Homo sapiens: one gene and its partners. Changing the gene in region 2 together with the main gene of any one other region gives a genetic interaction. Each region holds a gene or a part of one and is shown on either strand. Other genes may lie near its edges. The genes, in order: NAV1, CCNB1, GRB10 and PLEKHO1.

Region 1 (8,085 bases), on a different chromosome or scaffold from region 2:
TCTGAGATGAGCAGCGCCAGGTACTAACTAAAATCAATCCTGTCAGCTATCCAGTCTCCCATCTGCATAGAAGTATCTCACTCTGCCTTTTTCTCTTTTCTTTAGCTACGCACAGACTCAGAGAAGCGCTCACTGGCAGAAAGTGGGCTGAGCTGGTTTAGTGAATCAGAGGAGAAAGCCCCTAAAAAACTGGAGTACGACAGTGGTAGCCTGAAGATGGAACCTGGGACTTCTAAGTGGCGGAGGGAGCGGCCTGAGAGCTGTGATGATTCATCCAAGGGTGGAGAACTGAAAAAGCCCATCAGCCTGGGCCACCCTGGTTCCCTGAAGAAGGGCAAGACCCCACCTGTGGCTGTAACTTCCCCCATCACTCACACAGCCCAGAGTGCCCTCAAAGTCGCAGGTGAGCCTGGAATAAAGGAAGGTACAAGGGCAAAGACCTAGTTCTTTGGTTGCTCCTCTTCTTAGTGGTCATTAACCCATAGGATGATAGCAAACATTTGCATAGTGCTTTAACAGACATTATCTTATCTGGTCTAAGGACAGTCCCGTGAGTTAGGAAAGATGGGTGTTATTATTTCCATTTTACAAATGTGGAGGAAATAGAAACTCAAAGAGATTAAGTGGCTGGGCCAAAATCCCAGTTAATATGAGGTACAGGAGGAAGTATATTATGTTTAGAGACTAGTTTGGCCTCCTTCCAAACACTTCCAATGCTTGCTTTCTTCTTTCTCCCAAGTTAGTCACTCAAGGCACTTATTTTCATAGGATACAGCTTGACATCTCAGGAAGATCCTAAGAAAACAATAAATAAAATGGCTACAGCAAGAGAATTATAGTGCCCCCAAAGTTGGCCCCTTGGGTAACTTTTAGCCTTAATCAACATTTTCCTGTAGTCTCTAATTACTAAGAGATATTGTCATACTCTATTCCATTTGCTTCCCCACCTTTTTTTTCCCTTCCACAACTAGTTGTTAGATGGATATTCTTGATCATCTTTGTGTTTGCCTCTGCCTTTTTAATCAAAATGGACCATTCTACTCTGGGAGCAAAACAAAAAAAATTCCTAGCCTCCCCACCCCTCCCAGCCAGAGTCTTTCAGACAAGAAACTTTATCAGCTTATCTTGTACCTGTTTACCCAAATTTAGGCCTCTAAAAGTCTACAATACATGGACAATGTTCCCTTCTCCCATGGAGGGAAAGAAAAGGGTGGGTTTTTAAGATACTGGTCAGTTTCAGCTCTTTTCTCATTTCCCGTCCTCTTGCAGGCAAACCTGAGGGCAAAGCTACAGACAAGGGTAAGCTTGCAGTGAAGAATACTGGGCTCCAACGCTCCTCCTCTGATGCTGGTCGGGACCGCCTGAGTGATGCTAAGAAGCCCCCCTCGGGCATTGCTCGCCCCTCCACTTCGGGATCCTTTGGCTACAAGAAGCCTCCTCCTGCCACAGGCACAGCCACTGTCATGCAAACTGGTGGTTCAGCCACTCTCAGCAAGATCCAGAAGTCCTCAGGCATCCCTGTCAAGCCAGTAAATGGGCGCAAGACTAGCTTAGATGTTTCCAACAGTGCAGAGCCAGGATTCCTGGCTCCTGGAGCCCGTTCTAACATCCAGTACCGCAGCCTGCCCCGGCCAGCCAAGTCAAGTTCTATGAGCGTGACCGGCGGGCGGGGTGGACCTCGCCCTGTGAGCAGCAGCATTGACCCCAGTCTCCTCAGCACCAAGCAGGGAGGCCTTACGCCTTCCAGACTGAAGGAGCCTACCAAGGTAGCCAGTGGGCGGACCACTCCAGCCCCTGTCAATCAGACAGATCGGGAAAAGGAGAAGGCCAAAGCCAAGGCAGTGGCCTTGGACTCAGACAACATCTCCTTGAAGAGTATTGGCTCCCCAGAAAGTACTCCCAAGAACCAAGCAAGCCACCCCACAGCCACCAAGCTGGCAGAGCTGCCACCAACCCCTCTCAGGTACCCAATGTGGGCAGCCGCCTCCTTGTCTGTTTGCTTTGTCATTCTTTCGCATATCTCTGCCCTCCTTGGACTAGATGAGGCATGGCCTATCCACCGTTGTCTCTAGGCCTTTGCATGGCTCTTTCCCACCTCTCCCCCATATGCCAAGGTTCTGAAAGAATCTAGTTTCTGACAGTTCTGAAAGACTGAATCCCTCTTTCAAAACTTACCTCATTTGTACTATTCTCTGATCAATGCTTACCCTGTCTTCAGCACTTGTATGGGTGTTTTTACTGTTTATTTACACATATATACCTATTTGCATAAATTCACTTGTATCTCCCATGTGCATATGCTGGCCCCTTATCTAAGCTGAATGTGCCCCAAGTTGGGTATCAGATTTCCTTGCATTGTATTTCACAACAGCATTAGGATAAGCCTCTGTGCTTAGCAAATAGGCAGAAAACAAGACTGGATAGGATTTCTTTAAGGTCCTATCTGCCTCTCACTCTGTAATTCTATTATTCTAAATATTTCGTTTGATCTTCTCTCAGGGCCACAGCGAAGAGCTTTGTCAAACCACCCTCACTAGCCAATCTTGACAAGGTCAACTCCAACAGTCTGGATCTACCATCATCCAGTGATACCACCCATGCTTCAAAGGTCCCAGATCTGCATGCTACAAGCTCAGCATCTGGGGGCCCTCTCCCTTCCTGCTTCACCCCCAGTCCGGCACCCATCCTCAATATTAACTCAGCCAGCTTCTCCCAGGGCCTGGAGCTAATGAGTGGTTTCAGTGTGCCAAAAGAGACCCGCATGTACCCCAAACTCTCAGGCCTGCACAGGAGCATGGAGTCCCTCCAGATGCCAATGAGCCTCCCCAGTGCCTTCCCCAGCAGTACTCCCGTCCCCACCCCACCTGCTCCCCCTGCTGCTCCCACAGAAGAAGAGACGGAAGAGCTGACTTGGAGTGGAAGCCCCAGAGCTGGGCAACTGGACAGGTAGGTAGAAAAGACAGCAGAACCTCGGCCTGTCTCCGTGTCTTGGGCTCATTTTGCCATTGGCAATACTATCCTATATTTTATTGCCATTTTGTGACTTTTGACATTTTTTCACATATATTAAGTAATTTAATTTGCTTCACAACAACTCCATGAGATAGGTAAGATGTGTTTTTGTTTTTAAATTATTATTCTTATATTAAAAATGAAGAAACTTGTGCACAAAGAAGTTAAATGACTCATCCAAGATCTCATAATTAGGTTAACCTATCATCCAGAGCTTTTGCTTCCTAGTCCAAAATCATTTTGTTTTGTTTTGTTTGAGATGGAGTTTTGCTCTTGTTGCCCAGGCTGGAGTGCAGTGGTGCAGTCTTGGCTCACTGCAATCTCTGCCTCCCAGGTTCAAGCAGTTCTCCTGCTTCAGCCTGCTAAGTAGCTGGGATTACAGGCACTTGCCACCATGCACGGCTAATTTTTGTATTTTTAGTAGAGACCAGGTTTCACCATGTTGGCCAGGCTGGTCTTGAACTCCTGACCTCAAGTGATCTGCCTACATCAGCTTCCCAAAGTGCTGGGATTACAGGCATGAGCCACCACACCTGGCTGCCCAGAATCTTTTCTTTTATATCACATCCTAGTTTTCCCCTCCCTTCCCCCTATATGCCAAGGTTATCAAACTACCTATATGGTAGTTTTTACCTACCATAATACGATCTATTTTTTTTTTTTTTTTGAGATGGGGTCTCACTATGTTGCCCAGACTGGACTCAAAACTCCTTGGCTTAAGCAATCCTCCTGCCTCAGCCTCCCGGGAGCTGCAACTACAGGCTCATGCCACTGTCCCTAGTGCCATAATATGATCTTTTAAATAACTAACTATGCCTTAATTTCTTTTTTGTTTGTTTGTTTTTTGTTGTTGTTGTTGTTGTTTTGAGACGGAGTCTTGCTCTGTCGCCCAGGCTGGAGTGCAGTGGCGCGATCTTGGCTCACTTGCAAGTTCCACCTCCTGGGTTCATGCCATTCTCCTGCCTCAGCCTCCCGAGTAGCTGGGGACTACAGGCGCCCACCACTGCGTCTGGCTAATTTTTTGTATTTTTAGTAGAGACGAGGTTTCACCGTGTTAGCCAGGATGGTCTCGATCTCCCGACCTCGTGATCCACCCGCCTTGGCCTGCCAAAGTGCTGGGATTACAGGCGTGAGCTACGGCGCCCGGCCTAACCATGACTTAATTTCTAATCAGAGAAATAACATTTAATATTTCAGATAAATTTCCCAAGTTGTAAGCCAAGAAGCAGGCTATAGTATCTCTTGGTTTCTAGAGCTAAAGCAGGTCATAGTTTGATGTCCTGCGTCTAGGGTCTGCATACCTCACACCAATGGTCCTAAACTCTAGTTCCTAAGATGGACCCACATGCTTCTCTCTCTCTCTCTTTTTTTTTTTTTTTTTATCTCCACAGTAATCAGCGGGATCGGAACACTCTTCCCAAGAAAGGGCTCAGGTAACCCTTTAATGTGTTTTTTCTTCCCTATAAATGGGACTGCTGGTATGTATGAAAAATCATATCTCAACCTGTCCAAGGCTCCAGTCATGAATTTAGTCACCCTTTTAGCTGAATCATTTGTATGTGGTCCCATACAAGTACCACCTAGTACCTTGCCCAAGCTTAATATTATGTGAGTCAACTTTTACAGCAAGTGTTCTTTTTTTGGTGACAGGGGAGAAACAAGTTTGCACATGGGAATCATGCACTTACCTGTACTAGCCTATGCCATCCCAATCCTGGCTGAGCTTCATCTCTGTAATTTTCTTCCCTAAAAGTATGAGGGAGAACAGTCTGCTTCTTTGGTCACTCAGCTGGGCTAGGGGCAGGACCTACCTGGTCATCCACTGTTCTGACAGCACTGAGTTGTTCAGTTGGGTGGCAACTATTGCAACTTTTTTTTTTTTTTTTTTTTTTGAGACGGAGTCTCGCTCTGTCACCCAGGCTGGAGTGCAGTGGCACAATCTCAGCTCACTGCAACCTCCACCTCCCAGATTCAAGCGATTCTCCTGCCTCAGCCTCCCGAGTAGCTGGGGTTATAGGTGTGCACCACCAAGCCTGGCTAAATTTTGTATTTTTAGTAGAGATGGGGTTTCACCATGTTGGCCAGGCTGGTCTCAAACTCCTGACCTCAAGTGATCCACCCACCTCAGCCTCCCAAAGTGCTGGGATTACAGGCATGAGCCACTGTGCCTGACCGACTCTTGCAACTTGAAAGCCCACATGTGGAATCATAAGTCTCTGTCCTGAACTTCTGAGGAGAAGTTCTAATGCCTCCTCCATCACTTCTGCCCCCAGCTCAGGAACCCTTACGGGAATACCTGCTAGTCCTTCCACACCCTCTGGATGGTCTGGGAGAGGAGGCTGAGTCGCCACCTCTTACTCCCTCCTTGGGCAGCCCTGACCACTCCCTCTTTTCCATGTCCTGCTTTCAGAATCTCCTGGCTCCAGCCTAGTTCAGACACCCTCCGCACCAACTAAACCTCTGACCGCACTTGCTAGTCCCAGACTGAGTTCTTCTGCTGCTTCCTACAGGTACCAGCTTCAGTCCCAGGAGGAGACCAAGGAGAGGCGACATTCCCATACCATTGGTGGGCTGCCTGAATCCGATGACCAGTCAGAGCTGCCTTCTCCCCCTGCACTTCCCATGTCTCTGAGTGCAAAGGGCCAACTTACCAACATAGGTTAGTGTTTTCAGTCACTCACTGTGGCATGGGGTGAAGCAGGGGTCACCCTGCAGGGTGAGGCAAGGCAGGTGGGCTTTGGGTTTCATCTCATGTTTGACTCATGCTGTATTGGGTTGTTTCATGGTGCCTCAGTTTATCCACCCAAAGTAAGATTGAAGGTAGAGTACTTTGAGATCCTAAACTGAAAAGTTGCCCCTAGGCACAAGTTGTAGGGTCCTTTTAGCATCAGAGAGCCTGAATGGTGGCATGGAAAAGCTGTAACCCAAAGCCCAGAGATCAGACCAGTGCAAGAGCAGGCACATTGAACTGCCGGAAAGGAGCCACCACACCCAGTACTACTAGGGCCAGCTAATGAGAGGGCAATACTGAAATGTCAGGCCGACGGGGAGGAAGGAGGGAAAGGTTGTTGATTGCCAAGGACGAGATCTGCCTCCAAACTCAGCCAAGTCCAGATTCCTCAACTGCTCTGGCTGAGCCCAGGCCATCCTAACGCTGAAGGCAGGGCTGACTCAGATGTGTCCTGGCCACCCCCTTCCTAAAGCCTAGGGAGAAAGGAGAGCTAGGAAATAAGGAAGTGACTTAGAGACAGGGAGGAGAGGAAGCATCAGGTGGAGGGTCTGGCCTAGCACAGAAGCACACCAGCTCCGGTTCTGTGAAGCAGTACGCCATGATTGGCCTACTAGGAATCCATTCAGGAATAGTGCCTGGGATAGGCCTGTTATCTGCTTGCTGCATCTCTTTAAATCCATCTCTTCTTTCAGCTGAGTAAAAGAAATCAGTTAATAAAAGACAAGGACCTGTAACACACCCATGCAGTGACTGTGGGGAATTTGAGGAAAGACTAGGAATTGGGATCACTTGGCCTAGGGAAAAGAACCATTGTTCAGACAGGATCATCTGCCCTCTGAAGGGCTACTAAATGGAGGATGGGGCCAGCTTGTTCTCTATCTCCATTGAAGACCAAATAAGAAGAATTGCATTTATGCTGCAGAATGAGGGGCTGGGCTAAGCAATAATTACCTCAGGAATTTGAAAAGGTCAACAGAGAGGTGTGCCATCTTCTTCTGCACAGGTCTTTATGGACAGATTAGACATCCACCTGCCTGTATGGAGGCAGAAGAATAGACAAGGGAGCTCCTTGTGGGTATGAAACCCTGAAAGGCTGTAATCCCAGCAATGGGCAAAGGGGTAAGGCATCTGCAGGTTAACGGGATTCAGCTGAACCCAGCTTCAAAGCACATTCCACAAGCCTTACCTGACACTTTCACCTGCTCTGTCCATCTGACCTTCAAGCCGGGGCAATGCTAGGCAAAGAGGGCCATGTTTCTTGATGCTTTAGCGCCAACCCAGTCACTCAGAGTGACACTACTTTGTGGGGAGATTCTCACGCCCTTCCACAATGCCAGGGCAACGGGATCCCGTAGCCCAGCCCCCTTCTCTAGCTGGTGCTTTTTCATCATTCAGATCTGGGTCTTGGTTTGAATTTTCAGTCCTCCTGAGCTGGCAGTTGTGTTTTAGAGAACCACAGCATCTCATTTTCATCAGCACATCCGAGTGATGTGAAGGTCTCAGAAAAGCTGCCAGGCCCCCAGCCTAACCTTCAAAAGCAACAACTCTGAGGCAGGCAGGGTTGAGGGAAGGTCTTTATTCCAGACAGCAGGGTCCTTCTCCATTAGGGCTTGATCTCCCCAGGAGGGACCCCGCTCCTAACCACCAGCTGCTTGCACACTCCCACCACCGCACCTGCCCCTTCCTCTCCTGCCCTCTCCCCATTTGCCTCTCATGCTCCCGGTGCTCCATCCCCCAAGGGCCCGGAGAGCTGATGACCCTGCCTCTTTTCCTGCCCTCCTGCTCCCTCTCCTGTCCCCCTTCCCTCTGTCCTTCCAGTGAGTCCCACTGCGGCCACCACGCCAAGAATCACCCGCTCCAACAGCATCCCCACCCACGAGGCGGCCTTCGAGCTGTACAGCGGCTCCCAAATGGGGAGCACCCTGTCCCTGGCCGAGAGACCCAAGGGAATGATTCGGTCAGGATCCTTCCGAGACCCCACGGACGATGGTGAGACTTCATGCTAGCGCGGTTCACGCTCATTCCAGCTCTGCTGGGTCCCCTCACCCACCACCTCCACTCCCACCACTCCTACCACCACACACATATATGATTCACAGAACATCAAGTTGGGCCATTTCAGTTTTTTCTCCCCATCCCTTTGAAGGGTCTGGGGACCCAGAAACCTTGGGTGGCACATCTAGCACTGGGGCATTGGGATGGAGCATCCATCACTGGGGCTGGGGGAGGGAAATTGAGCATGGAAGGGTTAAATGGCATCCCTCAGGATGCTCTGAAAACCACAGCTTCTCTCCTCCTCATTCTAGCCATAGTCTTTCCTCCCCACAGTCTCTCAAATATAT
Region 2 (8,085 bases):
CCATCCTGGCTAACATGGTGAAACCCCGTCTCTACCAAAAATACAAAAAATTAGCCGGCCGTTGTGGCGGGCGCCTGCCGTCCCAGCTACTCGGGAGGCTGAGGCAGGAGAATGGAGTGAACCCTGGAGGTGGAGGTTGCAGTGAGTCGAGATCGCACCACTGCACTCCAGCCTGGGCGACAGATCGAGACTCCGTCTCAAAAAAAAGTAAAAAAAAAAATTTTTAAACTGGAACACAGAGGATAAGTAATCCTGCTTCGCCCCTTGCCTCTCGCCCCTGCATGGGGCGAGGAAGGATTGATCAAACCCAGAAAGACTGAGTGAGAATGGATGTTGAACACAGAACTGAAGGATGAATGGGAGTTACCTGAATAGAACCCAGGGGCTTGAATGCAAGAAGAGGCGGGCATTCCAGGCAGAGGAGAGCAAGGGTAAGGGCCCCACGGGAGGCATTCGAGTAGGAGGGTGAACTATGATGACAGAAGACTCAATAACGATCCAAAGAAACCAAATGATTGGGCGCCTTCTTTCGGATCCGTGACTTCCAGCGCCAGGAGTCTCTATTGGCTCTTATACCGTTGCTCTATGGGATAGCAATGTTTTTGTCCTTCAGCCTCCCCTCCAATTGCTGAGCTGCTGGTGTGTTTTGAGGAGTAGAAGGCAAAAAGAACCCTCTTGTTTTTCTTTGGATCTAGAGAGAATCTGAGCAAATGACAAAGCAAATGGGGTAAAATGTCTTTTTGTTTAGTTTTTCCTGATTTTCCCATGAGAGGCAAATACATGTTAAGGATAGTTGAATCTGAGTAAAGGGCATAGAAATATTCCTTACAAGATTTTTGTTGGCAACTGGTCTAAGTATGAAATTATTTCCAAATAGAAAGCTAAAACAAACAAAACAATTGGCCTTGGGAAACTGGACAATCTTGAAGTAATCAAGTAATATTGTTAAGGGACAATCAGTGTTGTGAAAACAACACGGATACACCCCCTCCCTCCCCCTCAAAAAAAAAAACCCTAAATTCAGTTCCCCCGTTGCTAATGTGTGACCCTGGCAAAGTCATCTAAGTCGCTGAGCTTCAGTTCCTCCAACCCAGAGAGTTGTTGCAACGATCAAATGAAAGAATGTCTATTAAAGCCTTTCATGAACTATATTATTGCTGCTACCGTAGAAATGGAAAGTGTGCAACACTAGATCCAAAACTACTTTTGACACTTCTGAGACTGTGGCCGCGCCTCTGTCACCTTCCAAAGGCCACTAGGCCTTTCCTGAGCTGGCATTGGCAACGCACACTCTTGCCCGGCTAACCTTTCCAGGTGGGCGGCGCACTGGCTTCACTGCTCTCCAGGTGGCCGCTGCAGCTGCCCGAGAGCGCAGGCGCAGAGGCAGACCACGTGAGAGCCTGGCCAGGCCTTCCGGCCTAGCCTCACTGTGGCCCCGCCCCTCTCGAACGCCTTCGCGCGATCGCCCTGGAAACGCATTCTCTGCGACCGGCAGCCGCCAATGGGAAGGGAGTGAGTGCCACGAACAGGCCAATAAGGAGGGAGCAGTGCGGGGTTTAAATCTGAGGCTAGGCTGGCTCTTCTCGGCGTGCTGCGGCGGAACGGCTGTTGGTTTCTGCTGGGTGTAGGTCCTTGGCTGGTCGGGCCTCCGGTGTTCTGCTTCTCCCCGCTGAGCTGCTGCCTGGTGAAGAGGAAGCCATGGCGCTCCGAGTCACCAGGGTGAGCCGCTTCGGACTGCGAACTAACGCGGCCTTCTTAGCTGCTGCCTGCTCTCCCTGCCTCGCCTGCGGGAGCCTCCCGAGCGGGAGAGGGCCGCAGGAGCGATTTGGGGAGGAAGGTGGGAGGGGACTCACCAAGAGAGCGCCGAGGTGGGCCCAGGCCTGGTGAGAGAGTGTGGGGGACGATGGATGGAGGGAGGAAGGTGAGAAAGAGAACTGGACGGATATTGGATAAATGTTTTGGGGAGGTGGAGAGTCGACTGGGAACCTTTTGAAAAAGTGATAGAGGGTCCCTGAGTGGGCCCGCCAGCAACTCTGTAACCCCCTTCCCAGAGAGAAGGTGTCTGCAATTGGAGGCTTTTTCGGTTTCCTTTCAAATGTAAATTCTCGGTATTTTAGGGCTGGCCAGGACTAATCAGGGAATCCCTCAATTGGTAAATGTAGAGGTCGGCGGAAACTGACTTGTCACGGCCGCAGAGTAGACTCTGGGACCCATGTTTTCCCTCGGAACCCATTTTTAGTCGGCTTTCTTTCTGGGAACTTCTCCTTGTGCCCCACCTTAATTAACCCTTGACTTACTCGAGCCTTCGTGGATCAGCTCTTAAAGTGGTCTTGCTTCTTTCAGAACTCGAAAATTAATGCTGAAAATAAGGCGAAGATCAACATGGCAGGCGCAAAGCGCGTTCCTACGGCCCCTGCTGCAACCTCCAAGCCCGGACTGAGGCCAAGAACAGCTCTTGGGGACATTGGTAACAAAGTCAGTGAACAACTGCAGGCCAAAATGCCTATGAAGAAGGTAACTCTCTTCCTGACCTAACTTCTGTAAGAGCCCGCCTTCCAACTGTGGCCTTTGATGCAGAAACATTTCATTCTCTCTGTTTCATCTACAGGAAGCAAAACCTTCAGCTACTGGAAAAGTCATTGATAAAAAACTACCAAAACCTCTTGAAAAGGTACCTATGCTGGTGCCAGTGCCAGTGTCTGAGCCAGTGCCAGAGCCAGAACCTGAGCCAGAACCTGAGCCTGTTAAAGAAGAAAAACTTTCGCCTGAGCCTATTTTGGTAAACTTATTCTTACCATTGTAGAGTCTGTTGATTATTTCTTGTCCCTTATTTCACTGATACATGCAAGAGCATTCAAATGAATAGTAATATTAATACCATTTATTGAGTGCTTAGCATGAGGCAAGCTCTGCCTAACATTTTACATGCATTAACTCACATAATCTTTACACGTACTCTCTGAGGTATTGTCACCTCTACTATTTAAATCATGGCTTTAGAGAGGTTATGTCAGGGTCACACAGGTAAGTGGCCCATATGGGATTCAAGCTCAGGCTGTCTGGCTTCAGAATCTATGCTTTTAATTGTCAACTGTCTTATATTCCTTCGTTAATGATATTAAGTAGTAGCTGTCTGAGCCAAAGGCTTTGTTATCCAACTACAAGCCATCTCTGCAGAATTTATTGGCGTAAACATAGAATGTTCTCTTGAATTTTTTTACTGCTGCATATGGCTACTAAATAATAAGCCTGTAACATTGGAATATGCAAAGGAGTAAAACAGGAAGAAGGCAACTTTTCAGGGAGTGGTTAAGAAGATGAATTAACACTTAGCCTCAAAAATAATAACTTTTTATTAAATATAAGGTATGTAAATGTATTCTATGATAGACCTACCTGTGAAGGAAAGGTAGGTCATGTAGAGGAGGCTGCTTTGATGAAATTGCAATGAACTGTATTCTGAAGCTCTGTTTTTTTAAACTTAGTTAAAACCAGTTGGGAAAATTATCTGAAAAAAACTTGTTGAGACAGAGTCTGGCTCTGTTGCCCAGGCTGGAGTGCAGTGGCGTGATCTTGGCTCACTGCAACCTCTGCCTCCCAGGTTCAAGCAATTTTCCTGCCTCAGCCTCCCTAGTAGCTGGGATTACAGACGCACGCCACCACGCCCAGCTAATTTTCATATTTTTAGTATAGATGGGGTTTCACCATGTTAGTGTACTCCTGACCTCATGATCCGCCCGCCTCGGCCTCCGAAAGTGCTGGGATTACAGGCGTTAGCCACGGCGCCCAGCCAGTTCAGCTTCTTATATCTAAGGATAAGAGATTGAAAGCTATTGCTTTAGTGTTGAATTTCTGGGCATAGCACATGAAATATGTAGCCAGCACAGTCTTTGGGCATATCAAACTACGTGAGGCTTTCTTGGAAGGCCCATACTGATTCTTACCTTTGCTTTCCCACTTAGTAAGAATGCCTTCCCCACCCTGTCTTTCATTTAGCTAATAACCTTTTCATCCTTGAAAACAGCTCAAGCATCAACTCCTGAAGCTTTCCCAAACTTCCCCCATCTCCACCCCCTGTTCCTAGAATCAGTCTTTTTTTTCCCTTTGAGACAGAGTCTCACTCTGTTGCCCAGACTGGAGTGCAGTGGTGCCATCTTGGCTCACCACAACCTCTGCCTCCCGAGTTCAGTGATTCTCCTGCTTCAGCCTCCCAAGTAGCTGGGGCTACAGGCACATGCCACCATGCTTGGCTAATTTTTGTATTTTTAGTAGAGACGGGGTTTCACTATGTTGGCCAGGCTGGTCTCGAACTCTTGATCTCGTGATCCACCCGCCTCAGCCTCCCAAAGTGCTGGGATTACAGGTGTGAGCCACCATGCCCAGCCTTAGTCTTATTTTTGTTTATTTTTTTTTTCCCAAGACAGAGTCTTGCTCTGTCACCCAGGCTGGAGCACAATGGCACGATCTTGGCTCACTGCAACCTCTACCTCCTGGGTTCAAGCAATTCTCTTGCCTCAGCCTCCTGAGTAGCTGGGATTACAGGTGCCAGCCACCACACCCAGCTAATTTTTTTATTATTTTTTTATTTTTTTATTTTTAGTAGAGATGGAGTTTCACGATGTTGGCCAGGCTGGTCTCGAACTCCTGACCTCGTGATCTGCCTGCCTCGGCCTTCCAAAGTGCTGGGATTACAAGCGTGAGCCACCATGCCCGACCTTATTTCTTTACTTTGTCTACTAAATTCAGAGTCCTTTGAGGATGCCATGAAGTCAATGCCTTGTAGAGTTTGACTTCAAGAAGGTGCTCAATAAATGTTTGAACAATGGGATAAAGGGAGCTTGAAGGAAATGGTTAATGGCGATGAAGTTAGTTAATCCTTAGTAGTCAGGATAGAATTTGTGTTGAGTAGTGAGAAGCAGTTTATATTATGAAATAAAGACTAAAGACTGAATTGTCATTTATTTGGACTAACTTCACATGTTGCTGATAAAAATTAATTACTTCTCAGTTTCCTTTGCAGCAAAGTCTAGAATGTGAATTTATTTGCTTCCAACTTTAAACTGACTCACTCTAAGTTGGCATTTCACTGTTTTTTTTTTTGCCCAGGCTGGAGTAGAATGGCGCAATCATAGCTCACTGTATCCTCAAACTCCTGGGCTCAAGTGATCCTCCTGCCTGGGCCTCCTGAGTAGTTAGGACTGTAGGCAGCTGCCTTCATGCCCAGCTAATTTTTTGTAGAGATGAGTTATTGCTATATTGCCCAGGCTAGTCTGGAACTCATGGTCTCAAAGGATCCTCCCACCTCAGCCACCCAAAGTACTGGGATTACTGGCTTGAGCTGTTATGCCCAACCTCATTCTTTTTAATTGAGGAATTAAATGATCACTTTTTTCTTTTTTAACAGAGACAGGGTTTTGCTATGTTGCCCAGGCTGGTCTTGAACTCCTAGCCTCAACCTCAGCCTCTCAAAGTGCTGAGATTAAAGGTGTGAGCCACCGCGCCCAACCCAAATGATCACTTTTGATGTTAATCACTTCCTAAAAAGAAATGGAATAAATCTGAAAAGATACTTTTCCTTTAAGGAAATGAATTGTATGCCGATTCAGCAGAATACTAGCTTGAGTTGGTACCAATAACCTGAACTTCATGCCCAAACTATAGTGCTTACTTCTATTTGCTATTTCAAGATATCTCTTTGTTTCAAGGTTGATACTGCCTCTCCAAGCCCAATGGAAACATCTGGATGTGCCCCTGCAGAAGAAGACCTGTGTCAGGCTTTCTCTGATGTAATTCTTGCAGTAAATGATGTGGATGCAGAAGATGGAGCTGATCCAAACCTTTGTAGTGAATATGTGAAAGATATTTATGCTTATCTGAGACAACTTGAGGTAAGTATTATCATTCGTTTTTTTTCTAAACTGCATCTAACTTTATGAAAGTATTTTCCATCAATAGTTTATAATAATACAAGCAGGACGTGGGCAGCATTTCTTAAGAGATCGCACTTTCAAATTCTCCTTCATGGAATACCTATAATAAAAAGTCACTAAATAAACCAATGGAGTCTATTTGTCACTTTGTGCAGGAAAGTTCGAAGTTAGGGTGGATACTACTATCGCTTTCTAAAGGAAAATCCACAGATTGAATTTGATATGTATATATGCGATCTCCACCACGTTTGGAATGGTTAAGTCCCAAACTCTGCATTTTAGGTGATAACGGGTCAGGAAGTGGATGAGGATGTAGAATATACTCAAAGACTACAGCCACCCCTAACACAAGGCATTTTGTGTTAGTGTGGCTGATGTGCATCCAGTTGTTGGTGAAATTATTTGTGCCCAAAAGGAGTACACTCAAAAGCTACTTTTTTGGTTCACTTCAATTTGATCCCACTTTTGAAACTTTCTATTAATGGCATTTGCCCTTTCCCTACAAATACAAGCACTCTTTATGGCAGCATAAACATAGTAACATAAATTATACTGTTACCACATTTACGTAGTTTTTTTGTTGTTGTTGTTTTGTTTTTTTGAGATGGAGTCTCACACTGTCGCCCAGGCTAGAGGGCAGTGGTGCGGTCTCAGCTCACTGCAGTCTCTGTCTCCTGGGTTCAAGCAATTCTCCTGCCTCGGCCTCCCAAGTAGTTGGGGTTGCAGGCACACACCACCATGCCTGGCTAATTTTTTGTATTTTTATTTGGTTTTGGTTTTTTTGAGACAGGGTCTTGCTCTGTTGCCCAGGCTGGAGTGCAGTGGTGCAATCTCGGCTCAGTCCAGCCTCCGCCTCGGGTCAAGTGATTCTCATGCCTCAGCATCCCGAGCAGCTGGGATTACAGGTGCCCACCACAACACCCAGCTAATTTTTGTACTTTTAGTAGAGATGAGGTATCACCATATTGGCCAGGCTGGTCTCGAACTCCTGACCTTAGATGATCTACCCATCCCGGCCTCCCAAAGTGCTGGGATTACAGGCCTGAGCAACCGCACCCAGCCCCCAGTTGTTTCTAATGTGTTGTCTTATGTCATCACTGACATGTTCATCTCTTGCCTGCTCCTTTTTGGCCTCTCCTTTTTCTATAGGATTCTTCTGCAAGACTTCTTTGCCAGGAGCAGCCTTCTGCTTTTAGTTTCTTCTTCCATCTTTCTAGTGCTTTTTAAAGTTGTGTTCTAACTTTGGAGGATTCAATTTAGTAAATGTGCTGTTTCTTTTTTTTTTTTTTTTTTTTTTGGGACAGAGTCTCGCTGTGTCACCTAGGCTGGTGTGCAGTGGCACAATCTCGGCTCACTGCAAGCTCTGTCTCCCGGGTTCACGCCATTCTCCTGCCTCAGCCTCCTGAGTAGCTGGGACTACAGGCATCCGCCACCACGCCTGGCTAATTTTTTATATTTTTAGTAGAGACGGGGTTTCACCGTGTTAGCCAGGATGGTCTCAATCTCCTGACCTCATGATCCACCCGCCTTGGCCTCCCAAAGTGCTGGGATTATAGGTGTGAGCCACCGCGCCCAGCCTGTAAATGTGCTGTTTCTTGATGCTTCGTTCTTGTTCTGTGCAAGGCCATTTATGCAAAGCAACCCCTCAAGTGGCAGAGGAGCTGAGAAACCAAGGAATTAGGCAGATAAATGGAGTTTGCTGGTATTGGGTGACTGATGAGGGGGAATTTACAGACATAAGTATGGTCTTTGATGGCTGTAAGATGTAGATCTCTGCACTGTAACCCCTCGTACCCACGGCTTGGGTATGTATACATTTTCTTGGGCAAAGTATACATGCTCTAGAATCAATGTGTGGGTGGCTGACAGAATGCTGCAGACATCACAGCCTATAATGTATACAATAATATCAAGGGCTGTTTTGGAGGAAAGGCCAAACTTAAAGTGAATAGGCAGAAGTCACATTGAATTAGTATTTAAAATAAAGTCACTGTTGTCCCCACAGTTCTTAGCTATGTTGCTGTTGGGATTTAACCCAGGAGCAGGCAGGAGTGTTGTAGTACATGGGTTCCAGCTGCCCTGGGAGTTACTGATATTTTCTCTACATAAAGCTCAGGTTCTAAGTTTAGAGGCTTAAGTGAAAAGATCTGAGATG
Region 3 (8,085 bases), on a different chromosome or scaffold from region 2:
TGTGCTCTCTCACTTTAATGGTGAAGCCATAGAGTACAACCTCAGGTAAACGCAAGACCAATAGACTCTGGCTTAAATATTAACAAGCCAAAACATTGCTGTTTTAAAATTCATCATCAACAACAAAATAAAACAGAAAGCCCAAGAAGTCTAGAAAGACAACTCCAAAACATCTCACACTATTTATGAGCACCCAAACACCAGTGAGGGCCCATGAGCCAGTGGCAGAGGTGCGTGGAAGTGCCTGGGTTTACTGGCTCCAGATTTCCATGCTTCCACCAAGGGTCTGACCGGCCCAGGTTTGGAACCCATAACACGTTGGACAAACTGCTCTCAGGGCTCCCCCTGGCCAAATGCTGAGCAGCTGCAGGGCGGGTGCCACCCCACGTGGGGGTAGCAACGAGCCTGGGTGGGACCAGGGAGGTGAGACCGACCCTGCACTGCTTCTGTAGAAGCACCTGGGCAGGACCCCAGACCCAGAAGAGGAAGCAGAGCCTGGGCAGGGTGAGGAAGTTGAATCCAGGGCAGGTGAAGGACAGCCAGGCAGGAAGGAATGAGTGGGCTGTCAGACGGTGACATCCCAGCACGTGGATCTCCGATCAGAAGTAGCCCCCTTTGCGCCGGTGTACGTCTCCCCCACAGCTGGAGGATCACAGGTTTGAAACTCAGCTATTCCCGCCAACCCAGATGACTCAGGCAAGCCCCATGGGTACCCTTAGCAAACTCAGCACAGCACTCAGGAAGAACCTGGCCAATGCAGGGTCACGAAGCCAGGGTGCAGTCATCGTGGAAGAACTTGGTAAGCCTGCCTGGGGCTGCTGCATGCTCTGGGATCCCCAGGGAGAGGACGCAAGGCAGCTGGGGAAGACCTCCCTGTCCTTCTAGATAGAATAATGGCTGCTCTCTTTTGGCACATGCCTGCCACGTCTTAGACTACCAACTACTCCATCCTGCTTCCTCTCAGATAGCTCTTCACTCTGTCACCATCGTGCTAAGCTCACGAGAGCAGGGCCCACTTTGCGGTCAACCTCTTGGTCTCAGGGTCTGGCAAAACACCCGGCCCGTTGTAGGGGCTCAAGGTGAGCGAAGGCAGAGAGCTCAGAGGGAGGCGGCATTGGAGGAATCGCGTGCTGTTGAATAGGAGGCTGAGGGCTCTTCTCTACCCATGACTACTCCCATGCAGAATTTTCCCTCCCCTCCTTCCTTTCATCAAGTCCCATTGGCCCGTAGCCTTTACAGGGCACTGAGCTTGTATCTTACATGTCTAGAAAGGAGACACACCAGAGCTGCAGGTGGAACTCAGATCCGTGAGGGCCCACAAATGCTGCAGTGAGACCACTGCCACTCTCCCACCCTGTCCCAGCACGCGGGCCAGGGGGCTCAGCATGCTGTGAGGAGCGCCAGGTCCACATCATGGTAGTTGCTTGCTCTCAGACCTGGGGTCTCTGGACACCAGCATCTGATCTCTTATCACATTACGGAGCTACCAAGGAGTCACTTAAAAAGGAGAGAGGCAGGGCCAGGCGCAGTGGCTCACATCTGTAATCCCAGCACTTTGGGAGGCCGAGGTGGGCGGATCACAAGGACAGGAGATCGAGACCATCCTGGCTAACACGGTGAAACCCCGTCTCTACTAAAAATACAAAAAATTAGCCGGGCGTGGTGGCGGGCGCCTGTAGTCCCAGCTACTCAGGAGGCTGAGGCAGGAGACTGGCGTGAACCCAGGAGGCAGAGCTTGCAGTGAGCCGAGATTGCGCCACTGCACTCCAGCAGCCTGGGCGACAGAGCGAGACTCTGTCTCAAAAAAAAAAAAAAAAAAAGGAGAGAGGCAGAAGAAAGGTACTAATGCCTGTGTGGGAATTTCAGAAGGCTTTGCCTACAAAGCTTGGGCAAGAATGATTTTTCCTTTCTCATGGAAGTTTAAATATCTCTACTTTTTCCTCCCGTTGCCTTCTTCATGAATCTGCTATTTAATAGTGAACATAATGACATGAATGAGGAAGTTTCCAATCACCTCACTATCCCATTACCTTCCATAGATTTCGTTATGCTTTCTTCTTTTCCTACGTTAACTGAGTTCTTCCCTGTGAGCAAAGCCACTTTATGTATCGGGTCCACTTTGTCAATTTTTCTACTACTTCAGAATCCTTGACTAGACCTTGGTCTCAGCATTACTTCCTCTGACTTGAATGAAGGGAAGAAGAACATCAGATTTCTCTTTTCCTCAAGCAAGGGGCAAGGAATGGAGCCAAAGCTCTTTGCCCAGCACCATCCCCCACCGTGATCCTAGATCCAAAGCCCTGGGAAGTGGCTGGAGGTTGTCCAGCACTTGCTACCGACTGCACTGAGAAAACACACTTTTCATGAGATCAGAAGTCAACACCAAGTACAGATAAAGAAATATCCCTTCAAGCAAGTCGGGAAAAAAAAAAAAAGAACAAAGAACAAGGACTTTCTACAAGTAGTTCTAGTTCTGAGTGAGAAACATCCTTCCTGGTCGTTTCTGTGGGCTTGAGGACACGAGTGACACAGACACCAATGCCACGTTCTCATGGGGAACAAGCTCTGATCCCAAGAAAAACACCAGCAGGCAAAATTCCCCGGTTTCCTTGTTCTGCTTACAAATTTGGACAATCCCTGGGGGTGGAGGCCAATTTTCTTGCCAAAGGCTGAGAGAGCCAGATAATATTTTCATGGTCTTATTTTAGAATGGGTAGCTCTGTAAACAACCTCAGTGACAAAACCCACAGACAGCTTGTCTGGATCCTTATTTGAAGCAGAAGGTCACCAGCGAGGTAGACATCCCAGATGCACTTTAGACATGTGACAAAGTGCACAAGCCCAGCCAGTGCTGGCTCCCAGATGAGGGACACTTACCTCACCTTCTAAGTTTTGATAGTGCCATAATGCAGCCTGCTCCGGGGGCCTGAGGTCAGAACGGGACCCACACTTGGGAGCCAGCGGGTATTGGAAAAAGGTCTCTCTCTCAAGAGGACAGACCTTGCATGGCACAGGACAGGCAGATTTGCAGAGAAAGGGATGGCTGGCCTGTCTTGCTTGAGAACAGCAAAGGTAGGGAAGTGAGAGCAAGTAGGGAGAAGAGATGATTCAAGTAGAAGGGCAAAATGACTTCTAAATATGCATTTAGCAGAAGGAAAGTCAAAGTCCCGGGAAGCCAATCAGCACAGTGGCTGCAATCACAGGCTCCGATTCTGAGGCCGGGTCACACTCAGCCGCACCATCAGGTCTCAGCCACACTCAGCTCAGCTGCTTACAGGGGCCTCCCTTCCCTCAACTGTGGAACAGAGGGAACATGCGTACTTAATTCATACGGGATGGCATGAGGAGTAAATGAACATATAAATAAACAAAAAATAAACATATCCACCACTTACGACAAGGCCTGGCACACAGAAATCCCTCACTCCATAAACATCAGATGGCGCAGTTGTTCTAATGATCACCTCCACCCCTAGGGGTCTTCCTCCAGAGGCTGCAGCCCATCCTGGCTCACAGCCCTGCCAACCGGTGGGGAGGAACTTTCAACCCCTTTCTCTGCCAGTTTCTCTGCTAAGCTGACTTGTTGGCTGTTTGACCTTGGACACATTACTGAAATGCTCTGTGCCTCAGTTTCCTCATATGGGGACAATGGTTGTGTCCTATCTACTTCATGGATCTACTTTAAGTAGAAACTACAAGTTCAAAAAGGAGGTTATTGCCCTGCGGGTCCAATGGAAACTCTTCTGCTTTCGGCAGATCATATTCAAAGTCAGGACTACAAGACAGAAACTCTTCAACTCCTGTGTACTGACATCCAGGTGCCCGGGTGAGCCCAGCATTTTCACACCTATTATTGAGCCAGTGGTGAAACTTTTTCAAAGAACTAAGATTCATCTTTAAACATCAAATCATTGTTATTATTTGCCATTTTTTATGAGACTTTTTCTAAAATATAAAGATAAAACAGAGTTTTGATCAATAATGAAAAGAGGTTTAATTGGTTCATGGTTCTGCAGCCTGTACAAGAATCATGGTGCGGGCATGTGCTCGGCTTCTGATGAGGACTTAGGAGCTTACAATCATGCCAGAAGGCAAAGCAGGAACTGGCGTCTCGCACAGCAGGAGTGGGAGCAAGGGGAGGAGATGACACGCACTTTTAAACAACCAGATCTCGTGAGAACTTACTATTGTGAGGACAGCACCAAGCCATGAGGAATCTACCCCTAAGATCCAATCACCTCCCACCAGGCCCTGCCTCCAAAATTGGGGATTACAATTCCACATGGGATTTGGAGGGGACAACATCCAAACTGTATCGGCCTCATAGGACAACAAGTACTGTGACAACAAGAAAAGAACTGAGAGAGAAGATCCCAGGACTTCCCGCCCTTCTTCCCAAAGTAATAATCTGGCACATCTGTGCAGATCCCAATAATCTGGCATATCCCTCAGCCTGGGCTCCAGCCAGGGGCACACTCACCTGCTTTGCGGCGGCCTGGCTCGGAGGTAAAGAACCCGGCGTGAGCACAGGGGGGCTCCCAGGGCCACAGAGTTCAGGAAAAGGATTGGGGATGGCCGGCAGAGATGAGGTTCTAAACTGCTGGTCTTCCTCCTGAAGGCGCCTGGAAGGCAGGGATAAGTGCCTGTTAAAAGCTGCCATTCCCCACATGACCCAGCCTTACCACTGTGGTGATACACCCAGAAAGCAGGACACAGGGCTTCTAGGAGTCACTGGCATGCCCACGTTCACAGTGGCATCCTTCACAAAAGCCAAAAAGTAGAGGCATCCCAAGGGTCTGCAGATGGATGAATGGATGAACAATATGTGGCATATCCATACCATGGAACACTACTCAGCCATGAAAAAGGAAGCACATTCTGACACAGGCTACGACACGGATGAACCCTGAAGACATTATGCAGAGTCAAACACACCAGTCACAAAACCAGAGACACTGTGTGATTTCACCCAGTGAGGTAGGTAGTGTATTCAAACCCATAGAAAATAGAAGGGTGGCTGCCAGGGGACTAAGGGGAGGGCAATGGGGAATCGCTGTTTATTGGGGACAGAGTTTCAGTTTCATAAGATGAGAAAGTTCTGGAGATTGTACAACCATTGTGAGTGTGCATTAATACTACCGAACTGTACCCTGAAAAAAACAGTTAATATGGTAAATTTTATGTTACATGTATTTTACTAAAACGAAAACTTTAAAAAAATTACAAGTTGTCATTCTCAGACCCAAAGGGTATTGGGTATCAATTCTCTTCTTCATTAGGCATCGGGGGCGGGGGGCGGGGTGCCGAAGTTTTGTTGTCCTGGGTGCGTGCTCATCTCAGGCAGCATTCAGTGCCTGACATGGCATCAGCTCCAAATACCTCATCCGTTTGATCAGTGAATACCTGATGTGTGAAAGTTTTCTGAATATGAGCATTTTCATGAGAACCAAGTGTTTTTCAATGTCCTTGAAATGAGCATTAATCTAATCAAATGAAAATACAAGAAAAGGCTGTGTGTTCTCATCTGAATTATGCAATGGATGGTTACTTATATAAAAAGGTTGTTGACACTGAATTAACTGGAAATTATAGCTTCATGTATCTGTCCTCGCAAAGCCTGTGTCCACATTAGAAACACACCTTGGAAACACACGCTGAATCCACACACCACCTCTACTTTCCTGGCACATCTCCAGGGGCATCTGTTCCCTCCTCCGAAAAATGCACAACCCACTTGTCACACAACTATGCAACACACACACAGTATGACGAATCAGAAGCAACTGTGAACAGCAGAGAAATCAAGTTCAAAGTCAAAGCGAATGTCAAGTGTCTGGCACCTCCCCTCTGTAGAGTAACTTCTGGCCCACACCTCCAGGGCACTCCTGGACACACAGCCTCCTCCACCCTTCCTGAGGCCACGCGGCCCTGTCTGCAGCCTCCTACCTTCAAGGAGAGGGGAGCAAACCTCACATTATCTTCACTCGGCATTTCCAATCCCTCCCCATGTTTAAACATACCTCAGAAACCCCCATCATAGGCTGTGTCCTCAAGTAATTTTTTTGACAATTTTTACGATTTCACAAAATCAACAATCCGTTAGCTTTCCCAGGAGATTTGCCACTACAGAAACACATTTTGTGACTGTATTACTTTTTCTCTTTTACCAACTTTCCCTATTTTTTAAAGGAAGATCCAGCTAACTATCCCACGTAGACCAGCAAATGATGCATGGATTTAAAATTACGAGAACTCACATGGCATGAAGGGAATCAGTGCTGCGAAATACAGGAAAGCCGTTCCTATAATGGTTTGATGACATGCCATAAAGTTTATTTTTACTGTGAACAAATCCCACTCTTCCCATAACAGCTTCAGCCTTGGCAAGGCGTCCAACTGAAACGTCTGGCCATTGTCATACAGGAGGAGATGGATAAAACGGGTGGCCAGTGCCACTTTCCCATCCACGGCTTCTAGCCAGTGACTTCACCCCAAAAAGATAATCTGACGTTTTAGTGTCCACAAAAGCTTCTCTATTTATTGGGTTGTTTTGAGCATTTTAAAAAGTCCTGTGTTGACTTTAAAGCGGCTCAGAGACATCGCCTAAGGCAAGACTAAGGGATATCACACAAAGACAAAAAATCCCCACCAAAGAGGCTCACAATAGAAGGGACAGTGACTATGGAGAGGGGTGCTGAGATTTAGGGATGTCAGGGATGGTGGCAGGAACTGCAGAGCTGAGGGGCGAGGTCCTTCTTCTCTGTGCCTTGGCTCACTTGTGTTTGTCTAGAACACATGCGTGGCCCTTGCACTCTCAAAAGCCTGGGTTCCTTCTCTGTACAGAATCGGCTCACCCATCGGCTTTCCTATGTGCAAAGCCTTCTTGCCCTTCCCAAGTGTCTCCTCTGCCCATACCCTGCCTGCCCCCCAGCTCCCTTCGGGTTGCATGGCAGCCCCCGGTAAGTTCCTCTGCAGCGTGGACCATGCTCCGTGACCTCTGGTACCCAGCAGCCTGCTCCATGGCCACTTCCCACCTGATGTGGTGAGCCCAGTTACCGCCCCGCTGTGCCACGGTTTCCTCAGCTGGGAAGCGAGGGTAACCCACACTGCCTCCCTCCGAGGGCACTGATAACAAGGAGGAGCTCATCAGCATCTGCACACAGTAAGCACTCAGCAAATGGCCTCACTTCACAAAATAATCTTTGGTGATTCCAGATTGATCTCCACATTTTTTTTTAATCCACCTGAAAGTAAGAAACAAAACTACTTATCTGAGAGGACACCAGAGAGAAGACATTGGGCCCAAGGAACAGCACCTGTGACCCTGTAGGGAGAGGGCTTTGCTGTCCCACAGAGCAAGCCTGCCCCTCCATCCCAGGGACTTAGCGCAGGTAGTCCCGGGGCACATATGGGCGAGTTCAGCCAGAACTCGAGGTTCAAGGGTCCTGGGCAACTACTCCAGCAGGGAGGCAGGCCTTCTGGCTTTCCAGCCCACCCTCGGGCACCTTCGCCATGCAACTGCACCTCCATATTCCCAGGCACTCCCCAAGGCTACTGTGATGCTCCCAAGAGATGCTCCCAAGAGAAAAACAGCTCTCCCACCAGACTTAACTCCTCAGGAGCTAAGTACAAGGGGTCACGCTTCAAAGAGCAAAGTTGAACAAACCCTGGGACAGGCATCATTCAGCATCAATGAATATGACAAAAAGTGAGAAGTCGGAGGGGAAGCCGGGGTGGGAAGCTGGGGAGGCAGCTGACCACGGGCGCCAGGGCCGCTGCACCCTCTCCCCTCCGTAAGAAACAGCTGCCACCTGGGGCAAGGTGATTATCTGGGCTGCGGAAGACCCAAGATGTCAGACCACAAAGAAAACTCTCAGAAGTTTCTAGAAGCAAGAAGAGCCCAGGAAATGAACAGAGCTCCCCGGAAGATGGGGTGCTGAGACAGAAGGCACCAGAACCCCATCCTGACAGAGGCCAGTGAGGGCAAGGGGCAGTCCCAGCAGAGATGGCTGTACATCCTCCGCAAAGGCCCAGAGAGGCACGCAGGGTCCCACGGAGCCCCACGCCATCCCGACTGCGACAGGG
Region 4 (8,085 bases), on a different chromosome or scaffold from region 2:
TACAAGGTGGCATTAAAAGTGTAAAGAAATGACATATAAGAGCATTTTGAAAGGATAAAGTTCTGTGTCAGTCTAAAATCGTGGAATTAATTGGTATGGTGAATGGAAAGAAGTTGAGAGGAATATCATTGGATTAGGAGGAAAGGTGGAACTGGAAAAGAGAGGGAGCCCCTCCTTCATTTGACAGACACCAGAAAAAGTCAAAAGAGCCTCCACTATTCAAACCACAAATCTAGCCAACACTTTTATCTTGAGACATCTCTGGAAAAATGATTTTTCCTTTTCCCTGCTCCTCAGTGCCAGGGATTTTTATTCATTTTGTGGTTACTGCATGCTTGCCATATGCCAGGCAATGTGTTTATTAGCTTATTATGATTTCAAAATTAGCCCTGGAAGACAACACATATCTTCAAAGGACTCTCAGAGGTCATCTCATATCTTCCCCTAGCTTTCCTTGTTGATAAAAATGGCAGTTCATCCCTCACCACTTAATACGTGGAGGGACGCGGGCCTAAAGAAATTCAGTGACTTGACCAAAGCCCAGAGTGGTGATGAAACCAGTACCCAAGCGCGGGGTTTCTCACTCCCCTTTTCCATCACACGTATATATATTAAAAAGACATGAAGTTACTAAGATGTGTCCTGGAGGCTCTGAGGCAGATCTGCTGTAGGAGGGATCAGCAGAGGCTTCTCTAGTCAGGGCATTCTCTGGGCGTTCAGCCCTTCCCTCCACTGGGCTCCAGCGCTGTAGAGAGGGTGGGGTTTTTACCTATCAGTATAGCGGGAAAAGATACCCAGGTGGCAGGAAGTTTAAGCCTCACCTGGAACTTATATTGAAAGCCACTTGGTAGAAAGGATAATGGTTTGGAGACAGAGTTCTATTCCTGCCAGCATTGACACTGTGTCTGAAAAGCCAGCATCGACACTGTGTCTGCAAATCCCTCAGCTATTCTGAGTCTCCGTTTTCTCCCTGTGAGATGGAGATCATAAAATCCGCCTCATCCTTAGGATTATTCTCCTGAAGCTACAATAAGGCCTGAGGCATTGTACGCTGGAAGAAACGTGTATTAATAGCAACTTCTGTCCCACCCCATCCCCCAACACGTCGATCCCCTCCGGAGCATAAAACTTTCCCCCAGCATCTGACCTGCCCAGGCCACCCTAGCACCTAGGAGCGTGAATTCCTGATGCGGGTTGTGGGTGGCGCGCCCTCCCGGTTCCCGCTCTCGTTTTTGTTTTTGGTCGGGTAAGGCGATGCTGTAGAGGCTGGCGATCTCCAGTCTTCACGAATCCGCACGTCTCTCCATTATCCACCGCGCCCGCCCACTGGGCCCCGGGGCGGCCGGCGGCCGGGTCTCTCGGGCTCCGCGTGTCGCCCGAGCCGCCGCCGGAGCGAGGGTCCCTGCCCCCTGGGGAGCGGTCTCCAGCCGCTTCGAAGCCGCCTTCTTCCCCCTCCGTGAGTCAGAAACAAAGGCGGGGGGGCGGGGGGAGCGCCCGAGCTGCGGCTCCGCGATTCGCCCTTTATTCTGAACTCGCAACGTCAGCGGCCCGCGGATGGAGCTGCGGGGTGCGGACTGGGCCGCCCACAGCGCACCGGGCCGGGGGAGCGGCCGCGCTGGGCCGGGCGGGCGGGTGGCGGGGGTGCGCTCGGGGACCCGGGCCGCGTGGGCGCCGGGATGGAGGGCGCCAAGGGGCGGGGAGCGGGCGTGCGTGTGTGTGCGAGTGCGAATGCGAGGGAGGCCGGCCTTGAGTGAAACCGGAGCTACAAAGAAGGGGAGAGTCCGGGAGCGGGAGGGCGCGAGGGAGGAGCGGCGGCGCCGGGGCAGCTCCGACGCCCTCCCGCGGGGAAGGAGCCCCCGCGGTGCCGCCGAGGCCCCGACGCGGGGCCGCCCCTCGGCTCGCCGCCCCGCGCCCGCGCCCGCTGGGAATGATGAAGAAGAACAATTCCGCCAAGCGGGTGAGTGCGCTTGCCCGCCCTGCGGCCGCCGCCGCCTCCGCGCTCTGACGACCCCCGCTCCGTCGGCGCCGCGGCGGCCTGGGAGACCCACGGCCCGGCCGCGCCCCCGCCCCGGCGGCCCGGTCCCCTCGGCCTCGGCCCCGCCAGGCGCCCGCGGGGGCTTTTGTTTGTTTACTCGCCTCGGGGGGCTTCAACTTGGCTGAGTTTCCCCACGACCCGCACCTCCCCCGCCCCCGGGCGCCGGGCGAGCGTTTGCCTCGCGCTCCGCCGTGGCGAGGAGACAATGGGAGAGAAAACCAGAGAAACGCCGTTAGTCCCCGCGCGGCGAGGACGGGGCGGCGGGGGCGCAGGGCCTGGAGGGAACCTGGGAGCCTCTCCGCGCCCGGCCGGCGCCCCTGCCACTTGCAGCCCCGGTTGTTTATTCGGGAGCGGGGGAGGGGAGCGGGGGGAGTTCCTCGGAGTGAAAACCTTTCCGAAGTGGGAGCGAACCTGGGGCGGCCCCCCGCCCCCCGGCCGCAGCCTTCGGAGGAGACTGGGCCGCCGAGGCGGTCGTGAGAGACGGACGGAGAGGAAGCGCCGGCTGGAATCTCCTAACCGCCCGCTTCTCATCTTGTCCTGGGGCAGGGACCTCAGGATGGAAACCAGCAGCCTGCACCGCCCGAGAAGGTCGGCTGGGTCCGGAAATTCTGCGGGAAAGGGATTTTCAGGGAGATTTGGAAAAACCGCTATGTGGTGCTGAAAGGGGACCAGCTCTACATCTCTGAGAAGGAGGTGGGTGCCTCTTGCCTCTAACTCTCCGTTTTCTCATAGCCCCCACTTTGTCACTCCCCAAGGGCTCGCCTAGCTTACTCCACCCCCGTTTTGTTCCAAAGGCAAGTTCAGTGGTCTCCTCTCTACCCCCATCTCATCTGCAGAGAAAGGCCACCCTTTAATGAGAAGACCAGAGTGAGAATTAGAAGTTGAGTTGGCCGCTTACTCAGTGTTTTTTTGTTTGCAAATACCTTTCTAACAACGATAAGCCCCTCCCAAGATGCCCCAGAAGTTCTAAGTGTCCCTTGCTGCCTCCCACCCTAACCTGGCCTCCTGCATATAGGATTTCTTTTCTATTTCTGCTGAAACAGTTTAGCCTATTCGCCACCCCTTCCTGTCCCCCCACCTTAACCCAGCCAGCCTCCCCTTTCCTGTCTGTGGCAGGAGCGTGCACAGGTCCTGTCCGTGGCGCATCCGCCCTGAATCACAGAAAACACGCACCCCGCCGTCAGGCCCCTGTGACCTCGGGTGTGTGAGTGGCAGTTATTTTCGTTGAAGCCAGTGTCCCTAACCAGTATGCTCTCTGTTCCCCACCCCCACCCCATTTAAAAAAGGCAAGGAACCCATTTTCTACCCACTTCCTGCCCACCCCTCCATTTGTATCAGAAGGGAGAGAAATGGAGTTAAGAACCCCTGTATGTCTTTGGATAGCTTTGGCTGTGTAGTTAACCATGAAAACCACAGTCTACACTGTGTCAAGACCTGAGCTATGATAATTGAATCCAGACCCATCTCCCTTTTTTCCCTAAGTCTTGGGATCAATAACGTGTACTAATGTGGAGAAATCAGAATTGCCCCTACAGTGGTTAGAAGTCATTCCATTCCCTGCCTCTGTGACTGTCCAAAGGCAGTCAGTATAGCCTGGAAGACTGTCCTGTGTACCGGTTAGAGTGGCCCTTCCTCCCGCCCTCACGGGAGGTATTCTGTGTTCCCTCACCCAGGGCTAACTGGGAAGTCCTCCCTGAGTTCTAACCTCTTCTGCTTTCTGCAGTAGACATCCTTATTCAGTAGATTATATTTAGGTAAATAAAACCTTTTATGGTATTGAAACATACACACACACACCCTGAGACAAAGTACTCATCTAAAAGAACATCTACTGAGGCATCTAGGGAAGAACTAAGCTGTGCCACAGCCAAAGAGATCCCTCTTAAGGGTATTGAAACCTAGCTGTTTACACAAAACTAGCAAGTTGGTGATGGAAAGTCTTAGGAGTGAGGTGAGGGCACTTTTCTTGGTCTGTCATCCAGGCAGGAATGCAGTGGCTCAATCACAGCTCACTTCAGCTTCCACCTCCCAGGCTCAAGTGATCCTCCCACCTCATCCTTGGAGTAGCTGGGACTACAGGTGGGTGCCACCATGTCTGGCTAGTTTTTGTATTTTTTGTAGAGACAGTGTTTCGCGTTGTTGACCAGGCTGCTCTCAAAACTCCTGGCCTCAAGTGAACCACCCGCCTCAGCCTCCCAAAGTGCTGGGATTACAGGTGTGAGCCAACCGTGCCTGGCCAGGAGGATTTATTTTTAAGAGTTACCTCTGCCCAATCACAAATCCTCCAGAAAGTTTTCTCCACAATTTTCTGGCTTTCTAAATTAAAAAAAAAAAAAAAAAAAAAAAACAAGTGTCAAAGTGTATCTCCTGTCTTCCCCGAACTTCTTAATTGCAGGAAACTCTAGTTACGAATCAGGGAGAACTTCCTACACATCAAAGAGAAAAACATAATAGTGAAAGGGTAAGAGGAATAAGACATCCATTGCTTGTTTGTATTTGCCCAAAGAGCAGAGTCTGGGGGCAAAAGCGTAGTTGATCCTTGCTTTTAGGTACAGAGACAGAGGAAAGGATGGAATGACCTCAGCCTAGGATATCTGGTGTCCTATGAGTCAGGACCATCTGACTGGTCATGGAGCCAGCTGTCTCCTGCTGGGAAGGGCACAGGAAAGAGGGACTAGGCATATTGATACTGTGCTTTTTTAGAGCCAGTTTCAATGCTACAGTGGGCCTGGTTAAAAAGTGAAATTGACAGAGTACTCTGGGCTTTATTTTGCCCACTTGTGAAAAGCTCCAGGGCCAATAGAATCAAGACACGGTGTTCTGTTTTGTTTTGTTTTTTAGAGACAGGGTCTCACTCTGTCGCCCACGCTGGAGTGCAGTGTCACAATCGTAGCTCACTGCTGCCTTGACCTCCCGGGCTTAAGCAATCCTCCCACCTCAGCCTCCGGAGTAGCTGGGACTACAGGCATGCACCACCACACCCAGCTAATTTTTTTTATTTTTTGTAGACATGGGGTCTCACTATGTTTCCCAGGCTGGTCTCAAATTCCTGGCTTCAAGTGATCCTCCTGCCTCAACCTCCTGAAATTCTGGGATTATAGGCGTGAGCCACAGTCCCTGACCAAGATTTTTTTTTTTAAGGCAGAGTATAATCTATATCATTTACTGTTAATGCAAGAAAATTTCTAACCCTATCTCCCAGAATTTTCACCAGTCTCTTTTGTTATTTCCTCTCTTAAAGGCAGGGTCTCCCACAACCACCTCTGCCGTAGAATTTCTTCTGTGTTCGATAGTAATCATTTTCTTCCTTCTCAAAGGGCATCCTCTCTCAAAGAGGGCTGGAGCACCTTATGATCACAGGCTGATGTGTAAGAACAGAAGCTAGACCTTAGGAAGACCTCATGGTGGAGGAAATTGGATTCGGGGCAACTCTTTGGACAGGCGTGGGAAAAATCCCTTTCTATAGTCAAGGACGAAGAATCAGGGGAAAGGAAGGGTTAATTTGGAAGATGGGTAGTTATAAATGAGACTCTGGGAATTAGATATGTGGGGAAAAAAAAAACAATATGGTGGAGAACAAGGCTGCTTGGCTTTGTCCATCTTCCCAGGCACTGGAATATACTTGTCCTACTGCTTGCCTCACCCCATCTCCCACCCTCTCCACCAAGGGCTAACCTCTATCAGTGTCTCCTGCTCCCCAGAGCTCCTAATCAGTCTGTATGCAAGGTAGAATAACTCCCTTTCCTTCCCTTCCCCTAAGGAAAACATAGTAAGTTAACTCTCTTCCCCTGGCTACATTCACACACCCAACACTTTCCTCTCCACGGTTTCTGGGCTCTGCTGATAGTCTCAGCTCTGGAGAAGGAGGGGGAGAGGAGGGATGATGCATCATCTTGTATCCCTGTCCCGTGTTTCTGGGAATTGCTCTTGGACACCCCTTGCCAGCACCTTGTCCTACTTCCACCCGTAATCATTCAAGGCCTCTGGCCACTTTCCAGCCCAAAGCCAGGGAACCCTGGAAAGTGGGAGGCCCTGGAGGAGCCAAGCCTTGCTGAAACAAATGGAGGTAGATGTATGAGGCGTCACTCACCTGAATGGGGCCATGTTGACATCTGTCCTCATCTGTCATCAGCCTCCAGGTCCAGCAGCAGTTCAGAAGGATGGGCAGATACAAGACTGTAGATGGTCTGGGTAATGGAAGGGAGAACCACTTCCCCACTTCCAGGTTTCCAGGAACCAGGAGGATAGATGAGTTCACCTCCATGCACACGAGTCCTATTTCAGAACTTGGGAAGTTGGGGACTGTTTTGGAAAATAATTTCAGTCAGGGTGGGTAGATGTCATCCAAGGAAGACGTGAGGCTACTTTTATCTGTTTGTTTAGTTTTAATGAGACAAGTGCTGGTGCTTTTAATTCTCATTCCAGGAAAACGTGACCAGGTTTTTCCTGAGGTGTTCCAACCCTGGGCTCAAGCCACGGAGGGTGGACAGACTGCACGGTCTGGACTTGTAACTAAGTCTCCTCTCTGTAACTTTGGTCCTTGCTAGCCAAAACAAATCCATAAGCCACTGCTTCAGAGTCCCAGAGTTGTAGGAACACCACCTTAGGGGAAAAGAGAAAACATTGTGGTCAGTTTCAGATGAACCTGCGAAGAAATGTTCCTAGAGCTGCTTTGCAGTGCTCAGAAAAGGCTAGTTGGGGTTGGAGAATGTCACTAGGAATGCGGCCTCGATGAGACGTTCAGCAGGAGTGCTAAGAGCTAAATGTTGCTTAAAACCTGCTAAAGGTGGAACCAGAGTGCGGGACGGAGACTATAGCAGGGAGGGCTAAGTTTAGATAGGAGGAAGAGCTTCCTGGCAGTAAAGGGGGCCCAGGCACTCAAACTGGAATAATGGCAAGAAGTCACAGAAGTCACTTTTTTCCAAGTCTAAAGTGTAGTCTCCCAGGGAGAGTCTAAGTGCATTCTTGCCTAGAGATAGGGGGTCTGGAGGAGTTAGTTTGGATTGTCACAGTACCTTAGAGGGAGGAGGAAAGGGTAGGAACTGTAATTGTAGTTTTCAGCTTCTCTGGACAAATTCAGCAAACTGAACACGGGGCTGCCGTCCTGTGGTGGCGATGCTCCTGAAATGAACAAGGAAGATGAGTCTCTATAATTGTACATACCAGAGAAGGAAGCGAGGTGGGGTGGGAGAGCTATACTGCACACATGTGAGTGGGGAGGCCAGAGACCGCCCCTCGTTCCCTCCAGACACCCCGATAACTGGCCCTGCCTTGATCTTCTTTCTGTGGACCATCAAGGGCCATACAGGTCTGTCTTACTGAGGGCAATGGATCAACCATCTACCATGTCCCTTTAAGGACGTGAGCCTTTTTAGAACATGTAAGCTGTGTCCTTAAGGAAAAGAGTGGGGCGGTTGGTGAAGAGAGGCATAGTGGGACTCTGGAAATGGCAGCCTGGCTAAGGAGAGTGAAGAGAAGGGGTTTAAACAGAAACACACCTTAACATTCAAGACTTGGAGCTGCCCTAGCGTCCTCCTCGATGTGAGGACCTTGTAGGCTTTGGGCAGACGGCCCTCTCCTCTCCTGGCGTGCCTCCCTCTCCTCAGGCTTCCTCTGTTTCCCAAGATGATCTAAACTAACAGTCTGGGTGGAGGGGCTAAATAATTTTATCCTCCTCACCTCACCCCAACCCTCCCCTAGGTAAAAGATGAGAAAAATATTCAAGAGGTATTTGACCTGAGTGACTATGAGAAGTGTGAAGAGCTCCGGAAGTCCAAGAGCAGGAGCAAGAAAAATCATAGCAAGTTTACTCTTGCCCACTCCAAACAGCCCGGTAACACGGTATGTTTCTCCTGCCACCTTGGCTGCTGGAACATGGACAGGGTTGGAGGGGGCAGGGGAGAACTCCTTCCCCTCAGTTTCTCTCTCAGCAATCTTGGTTCAGATTCCCTGAATTGCTCTCCTGCTGGCTTTTATCATTTCACCTGAGAATATTGTAGCCATTTCCTTCTTTCCAGGCAGGCCACCCTTTAACCTGTTCAGCCACAAAG

Evidence for each region.
Region 1: changes in CCNB1 (region 2) and NAV1 together harm fitness more than expected from each alone (negative genetic interaction), as found in Homo sapiens cells (one study listed by BioGRID).
Region 3: changes in CCNB1 (region 2) and GRB10 together harm fitness more than expected from each alone (negative genetic interaction), as found in Homo sapiens cells (one study listed by BioGRID).
Region 4: changes in CCNB1 (region 2) and PLEKHO1 together harm fitness more than expected from each alone (negative genetic interaction), as found in Homo sapiens cells (one study listed by BioGRID).

Annotation. Positions count from the first base shown.
Region 1 is NC_000001.11:201,780,907-201,788,991, forward strand, and holds part of NAV1 (neuron navigator 1), read left to right. Parts: intron 1-105; coding exon 106-403; intron 404-1,269; coding exon 1,270-1,963; intron 1,964-2,499; coding exon 2,500-2,946; intron 2,947-4,403; coding exon 4,404-4,445; intron 4,446-5,522; coding exon 5,523-5,671; intron 5,672-7,561; coding exon 7,562-7,732; intron 7,733-8,085. UniProt on the Homo sapiens protein: May be involved in neuronal migration.
Region 2 is NC_000005.10:69,165,565-69,173,649, forward strand, and holds the start of CCNB1 (G2/mitotic-specific cyclin-B1), read left to right. Parts: upstream 1-1,585; 5' UTR 1,586-1,698; coding exon 1,699-1,719; intron 1,720-2,343; coding exon 2,344-2,514; intron 2,515-2,608; coding exon 2,609-2,779; intron 2,780-5,705; coding exon 5,706-5,888; intron 5,889-8,085. UniProt on the Homo sapiens protein: Essential for the control of the cell cycle at the G2/M (mitosis) transition.
Region 3 is NC_000007.14:50,665,242-50,673,326, forward strand, and holds part of GRB10 (growth factor receptor-bound protein 10), read right to left. Parts: intron 4,623-8,085; coding exon 4,481-4,622; intron 1-4,480.
Region 4 is NC_000001.11:150,148,331-150,156,415, forward strand, and holds the start of PLEKHO1 (pleckstrin homology domain-containing family O member 1), read left to right. Parts: upstream 1-1,585; 5' UTR 1,586-1,927; coding exon 1,928-1,957; intron 1,958-2,266; exon of another isoform or gene 2,267-2,581; coding exon 2,582-2,728; intron 2,729-7,735; coding exon 7,736-7,876; intron 7,877-8,085. UniProt on the Homo sapiens protein: Plays a role in the regulation of the actin cytoskeleton through its interactions with actin capping protein (CP).